Regions from separate parts of the Homo sapiens genome. Here region 2 is reported to be linked to region 1. Evidence: microRNA targets listed by miRTarBase, many of them from high-throughput screens and not tested one by one. Region 1 holds a microRNA gene; the other region holds the end of a gene's coding sequence.
Evidence for each region. The annotated mature microRNA hsa-miR-3151-3p reads CCUGAUCCCACAGCCCACCU and lies in region 1 at 1,111-1,130, opposite strand. An mRNA with a match to its seed (bases 2 to 7 or 8) in the 3' UTR can be bound and repressed. Matches are read on the target gene's strand: a 7mer-m8 pairs with bases 2 to 8, a 7mer-A1 pairs with bases 2 to 7 and ends in A, and an 8mer does both.

Region 2: miRTarBase lists MIS18A as a target of hsa-miR-3151-3p. Seed matches in the 3' UTR shown: 8mer at 2,335-2,342.

What each region holds. Positions count from the first base shown.
Region 1 is chr8:103,152,255-103,155,791 of GRCh38, reverse strand. It overlaps MIR3151 (microRNA 3151), which reads right to left and starts at 1,178; the gene lies at 1,103-1,178. All of the region lies in intron 1 of BAALC (BAALC binder of MAP3K1 and KLF4), which reads right to left.
Region 2 is chr21:32,266,557-32,269,556 of GRCh38, forward strand. MIS18A (MIS18 kinetochore protein A) reads right to left here. Exons shown (of 5, transcript NM_018944.3): 5 at 1,672-2,561. The coding sequence ends at 2,481. Among named protein-coding and RNA genes, the nearest start is that of MIS18A, 11 kb to the right of the region's middle.

The DNA.
Region 1 (3,537 bases):
GTTTTCTAGCTGCACTCCCACTACCAAATCAGAAGTGCCTGGGGTGGGACGTTTGTTTGAGATTCCCCAGGTGAATCTGATATGCAGCCACTAGGGAAGCAGAAAGATGAGTAAGGTGATTACTGCCAGGTCTTCCTATGGGACGGCAGCACCAGATTCTCCAGCTGCTAGGAGAGTTAGCCGCTAAAGGATCACAGCTGAGTGCCTCTCCAGGCACTGCTCCTGTGGAAGGAAATGACCTTACCCAAGGTCACACCTACTTGCTAGGGGAAGACTGCATCCAGCGCCTGGCCGATACAGGGTAAAAAGGCCCAGTCTTCTCAATTGCTGAATGGCCATCCCAGCTCCAGAGCTCCCCAGGGCATCAGCTGAAGCCCCTATTACAACAGCCATTCCACTCCTCCCTCTGCCCTGGACTGTGCCCCTCACCCTATTAGAGAAACTGGGATGCTGACTGAATTATTATTACATTAGAGAATTAAGAAGTTTTCATTAATTTTTAGGTGTGATGATGGTATCATGGTTATATATTAGTTTGAAGTATATGAAATTGCTAATATTACACTATTTCAACCTACAAAAATAACAAAATGGTCCAATCTAATATCTTTTTGGTCCAATCTAATAGATATGGTCCAATCTAATATCTTTTTTAAAGAGTCCCAGTTTATTAGAGATTCATACTGAAGTATTCATGGATGAAGTTACATGACTTGTGGAATTTGCTTCAAAAATGTTTAATTGGCGAAGTGGAATGGAGGCAGAGATGAAACAAGCTTTGCAATATGTTGATAATTGTTGAAGCTGATGATGGGTACATGGAGGTTTATTATACTATTCTCCATATATATTATATATATATATATATATAGCTTGAGATAGGTAAGAGGCCCACATCACAGGTGGTGTTACTAGAGCTCTCTCCAGTAAGGGTTTACCTCAGAGTCTGTTTCTTGGCTCTGTCTTTAAGAGTATACAGTATAATAGCAGAGATAAGTCACAATCATAAATAAGAAAACTCAAAAGGGAGTAAGTGTCCTAAATGGTGTGTGCTATCAGGGAACACATAACTGAAGCAGAAGGGCAGGAGCAGCAGGCTTTTGGGGTGACAGGTGGGCTGTGGGATCAGGTGGGATGCCCTTTGAGGCACCTGATCCCATTGCCCCACCCATCACCCCAAAGGTTGTATGGAGAGGCTGGAGAGAAAGCCTTGAATTCCATACTAAGACATTTGTATTCAGTAGATAGTGGGAAATCATGAAAGGCTTTGAGTGGAAGAATAACACAATAATGATCCCAGCTGTACTTGGGAGTATTTACCTGGCAATAATGTGAAGGGGATTGGAGTGGGAGTGACTGGGGGTGTGAAGACTAGTCCAAAAGTTGTTGCAAATGTCTAGGTGAAAGGCGGTGAGGACAGAAGCTAGCAATCCATGAAGGGGCTGGTGTACAGGAAAGACCACAGGGCTCAGAATGAGACAGACCTGAGTTCCAAACCCCACCCCACTGCTCACAGCCCGTGTACATTTAGACAAGCCATCCCACCGCTCTGACTACCCCCTTCTGTAAAATGGAAATAACAGAGTTAGCTAATAAATCTGCAAAGCCCGGCACATGCTGAGCACCCAATTAATGGAAGCCACACCATGAGGTCGTAGCTGTGTTCGTTTGTGCTTGTACATCATCACTTATCACCCCAGCAAGAAAGTGTGAGCCTGACTGCTATGAAGACTGCCCTTGAAAAGTGATTCTTGGAGGTAATCGTTTAATGAGGCCTCGGTTTCAAACATGCCAGTTGTTTATTGAGGTGCTTAAGCCTGAATCATTCCTCTTAGGAAGGGTGCACAGGCGGTCTCTGCTTCCATTGTAACCGCTGCCATGCCCTGTTGTCATGGTGACCAGTTTCCCAAACTGCCCTGCTATTTTCTGCAAGCCTTTCCAGTTTCTTAACGCCCTAAAGTCCACAAGCCCTAGAGACAGCAGCAGGTTGGGTTTTTTGAACTTCCACAGAAAACACTGTCAACTCTTTAAATTTGCCAGTTGGCTGCGAGCTGCTTCTCCAACAGAAGCTCCCAGCCTGAGCAGCAGTGTGACCCTGCACAGCAGACACCCACAAATGTTCCCACTAACTGGAAATTGGTGCCATGGAATATTAGCTGGCACATCAGTCTCTGGCTGGCATTAATCTTGCAGGAAAATAAGGCAGAAGACAAGGGAATGTCCACCATGCATTTCACGTACACAGCACAGTCTGAAGTTAAAAGACCATTCTAAAAGATTAAAGTTTAAGGTATTGCATTATTTTTAAAAATTATTTCAATATTAGCATATGTGGTTTTTCCAGAGAATGTTCACCTTATGAACTTACTTGAAACATGAAAATATTAAAAACAATATTATTATTGTTGTTACGGCAAAATTGTAACACTAGCAATCATGTCACCTTGGTTTCTGGCAGAACTTCTCTCCCTCCTCACTTACCTAATTCCTTTCCCCCTTCTTGTTCCTGGAAATCTTCTCTCCTCTCTGACCACAGCTATAGGATGAAAGAAGTGACCACTCTGCTGGCAGCCTGCCCAGTATCTGTTCTCCCCATTTTTCCTTTGCCAAGAGGACCCTGATACTTTTAGGGTAGCTTGAAAGTTCCCTGTGTGGAAGGAAATGACCTCACACAACATCACATCCCCTTGCTGGGGAAGCCCACATCCAATGCCTGGTCAATATAGGGTAAAAAGCTAAAAGTTTTGAGTTCCTAGACACCCTTGTAGCCCAGAACACCTACATCATACACTTCTGACCAATAAGACCCAAGCAAAGTTTACTGGGTTTGAGGAAAACTGTCATTTTACAGATAAGGAACAGATCAGGCAGAATGCCCCTTTCTGCCCGTCTCCTTCTTCCCATTTGAAATAAGATGGTGCAGCATCTCGCAGCCATGAGGATGAAATCCACACACTAAGGATGGCAGAGCAATAAAGCCAAAGGAGCCCAGCTCCTCCACAGTGTCCGTGACTGGGTGTGGCCGCCGACCTCCAGACCTCTGTGCAGACCTTCCATGGGCTAAATCCCATTCCTGGAGTTGGTTTCTGTTCAGGCAGCCAGATGCAATCCCTAACTGGTACAAAAGGTGTGGAGGGTTCCCTTCATTCAACAAACATCCACCGAGTGCCTACTCTGTGCTGGGCACTGTTCTAAGCACTTGGACTGTAACAGTGGGTGAGTCCATCAGATCCTTGACCTCTTGAAGCGAGAGAGTCAAGAAATAAACAGTAAACGAACAAGACAATGACAGGCAGTGGTGTTAGGAAGGAAATGACCAGATGGCCACTGGGGAAGGCTGGTCTCTCTGAGGAGGTGACATCTGAACTGAGAGCCAAAGGGTGAAGAGGAGTTAACCACACAGAGGGGGCGGGTGTGGGGAGGAAGCACATTGCAGCAAGTGTGAAGGCCTGTGACAGGAAGGGGCTCCATGTATTCAGAGAACAGAGGGGAATCAAGCGTGGCCGGAACACGCTGAGCAAAAAACAGAGCAGAGTA
Region 2 (3,000 bases), not on the chromosome of region 1:
CACTAGCCCACCGGGAGGAACGAACAACTCCAGACGCGCTGCCTTAAGAGCTGTAACACTCACCGCGAAGGTCTGCAGCTTCACTCCTGAGCCACCAAGACCACGAACCCACCAGAAGGAAGAAACTCCGAACACATCTGAACATCAGAAGGGACAGACTCCAGACGCGCCACCTTAAGAGCTGTAACACTCACTGCGAGAGTCCGCGGCTTCATTCTTGAAGTCAGTGAGACCAAGAACCCACCAATTCCGGACACACTGCTTCTGGACCCTTACTCCTGCTCACAGGCAGTGCTTCCCCAGGGCTCATTTACCAGAAACGACCACACACTGGGTTTTCCAATTATAAGAAACAAAAACTTGTTGCCTCAAGTAGTAGGTTTTAGCAGGTGGATATATGGGACAAGTTAAACACACACACACACACACACACACACGTTCTGATGAGACCTCACAGAAAGCCAGAAAAGCCATGCCACCAGGCTTCAGAGAAACAAGCGGCCCAGGACAGGGTGGCCCACAACAGGGGAAGTCCCCTCTCCTGCCAGTGTCACCATGCAGCACAGACAGGATGCAGCACTCCCACCTGGACCCCAGCCTTGGAAGTCCCTCTCACTGTGATGGCAAGGCCACCCCTTCAGGGATGCCACAGGTTGAGGCCAAAGATGAAGACTGTCTTATGAAACACAGTATTTCCTGGATTGACGTTCAGATGCTTCAGTGGAGACCATGTAATACAAATGTGTGCTGGCTTCTGTCTGCAGCCCAAGGGAGCCTCGTTAACTTCATGTGAAGAACCCTAACAGGAATACACGTGCAGAGATGGAAAGGTAATCAAAGGCCCACTCTAGAGGCAGCCACTAAGGCATGAGCTACATTTATCTTCTGATCTGTAACAGAATCTTAATTAGTACCAAGATATTAGAAATTACTTTTCATTGGTGAAATGAGTTTTCAAGATGAGTGAACTGGCTACAAATATTGTACAGCCCCTTCCTTCCCTAGTATGAACAGGGTATAAGGAATCGGGGAGCCAAATTGCCTATGGCTTTGGAATGGAATCTGAAAATGCTTGCTGGAGTACTCTGTAACCTGCACAACCAGAGAGTCAGCTGAGTCTTGTGGCTAAAATACTCTCTCATCTGTTTAGAATGCATTTTCACACAAGGTGCCACCAAAGCACCTAAGAGGACAGACACCTGGGACTACATCGAGCTTACTGCAGCTGGATGCTGCCTTGTTGCCAGCGGGTGTTGACGTTTGCTTCCACAGCACCATAGTCTGTTAGTGGGAGAGTAGCCTGCGAGAGAGAACGCCTAAAGGACTCACTCAACGTTAACTGAGGCTGTCGACAATCTCTCAGAAAGAACAGAAGAATCCTGCATGATCCAGTCAATGTGACTTAGGACCTTTTGCTCTGAGAACTTTAGTATTCTCACAAGTAATCAGGGAACTTCGGAGCAAACGCTGAGTTACTCATACCACTGAGTACTGTTCCGTGACCTCACTCACACCCAGAAACAAAGGGGTCTGGGGAAATTTGGGGTTACCTTTATATTCCTGAGCAGGCCTTCCACACTGCCATGCTCAGTAATGTGTGGATTTCACAGCACCAGGATTTCTGATCTCAGTTAAATACAATTCAGTTTGTAAAAATCAATCTTAAAGCACTTTGTTTTAATCTTTATTCTCTTCAATTAGAAAAATACATACTACAAAAGTTTCACATTATAGAAAACAGAAAAAAACAAAAATTCCCCCAGAATCCCACCCTCAGAGATGGTTACTCCTCTTTGGTAAGTATTCCTCCAGGTTTTTTAAGCATATAGTAGTACATAAGCAGGAAAAAGTAAAATCCTACTATATATAAGCAACTGCTCTTGAGCAAGTTTTCAAATGGTTCTGACAGATCATTCTGACCAATTTCTCCAGGGAACTTTATGGATTAGTTTTCAGAGAAGATTCCATGACACTGTGGGTAGACAAACCTCTAAGATTTTTCTTATCATTTATAATAAATGTTGTCCCAAGTGTTAAATGTCAAAGTTTTTAAAAATAGTAAATAAATGTGATACAGAGGAAAAAAAGTTCAGAAAATTATCCCAGTTTCTTATCAAAATCAAAACTCCTAAGTCCCAATTCCAACAAGTACCATAAAACGTCTTTAAAATGCGATTTTGAGAAACAATCACTTCTTTATCATAAAATATAGCTATAGAAGTAATTCTACAATTTTGGGTTTTTTTTTTGAGAGAAGGTCTCACTCTGTTGCCCAGACTAGAACACAGTAGTGGCATGACCAAGGCTCACTGCAGCCTCAACCTCCCAAGCTCATCTGATCCTCCCACCTCAGCGTTTCGCATGCCTGGCTAATTTTTTTTTTCTTTTTTTTTTTGTAGAGACGACGTCTCACTATGTTGCTTCATTTAACAAATAAGGGGAGGAAGGGCGGGGGCAGAATGGAGGACACAGACTAGAGTTCAGCTTTTACAAGTGGCAAAGGACAATTTGGATTCGGCCTCCCACAGCTTCATTTGTAATGCTTTCAAGACATCTTCCATCTATTGAATTTAAAAAATAAAAAAATAAAGAAACACACATATAATTAAAAATTATACATGGTTAAATATAATTAAGATATACACTTAATGCAATTTTGGATATGTCATACATTACAAGGTAGATATTCAGTGTTTAACAAAACTATTTAGAGGCATAAATTTTTTAAAAATAAAGCATAATTCTATCAACAGTAGTTCTCAACCTATAATCTACATCTCTTTTATACAATCATCACCATCTCACCTATCTGGCAATGAGAAAATGTTAACATCCAACAACAAGGCTATTTATACCACAAGAATTGAATCAAACAAAATACTGATTTGAATCAAAGATGTATTTCTAGCTTTGCAGTGTTTTAATATATAGTTTTGATTTTGACATGACATGTCTTCCTCATTATTTTGTTGATTAAGCTTTAGCTTTTGAGTTCCCCAA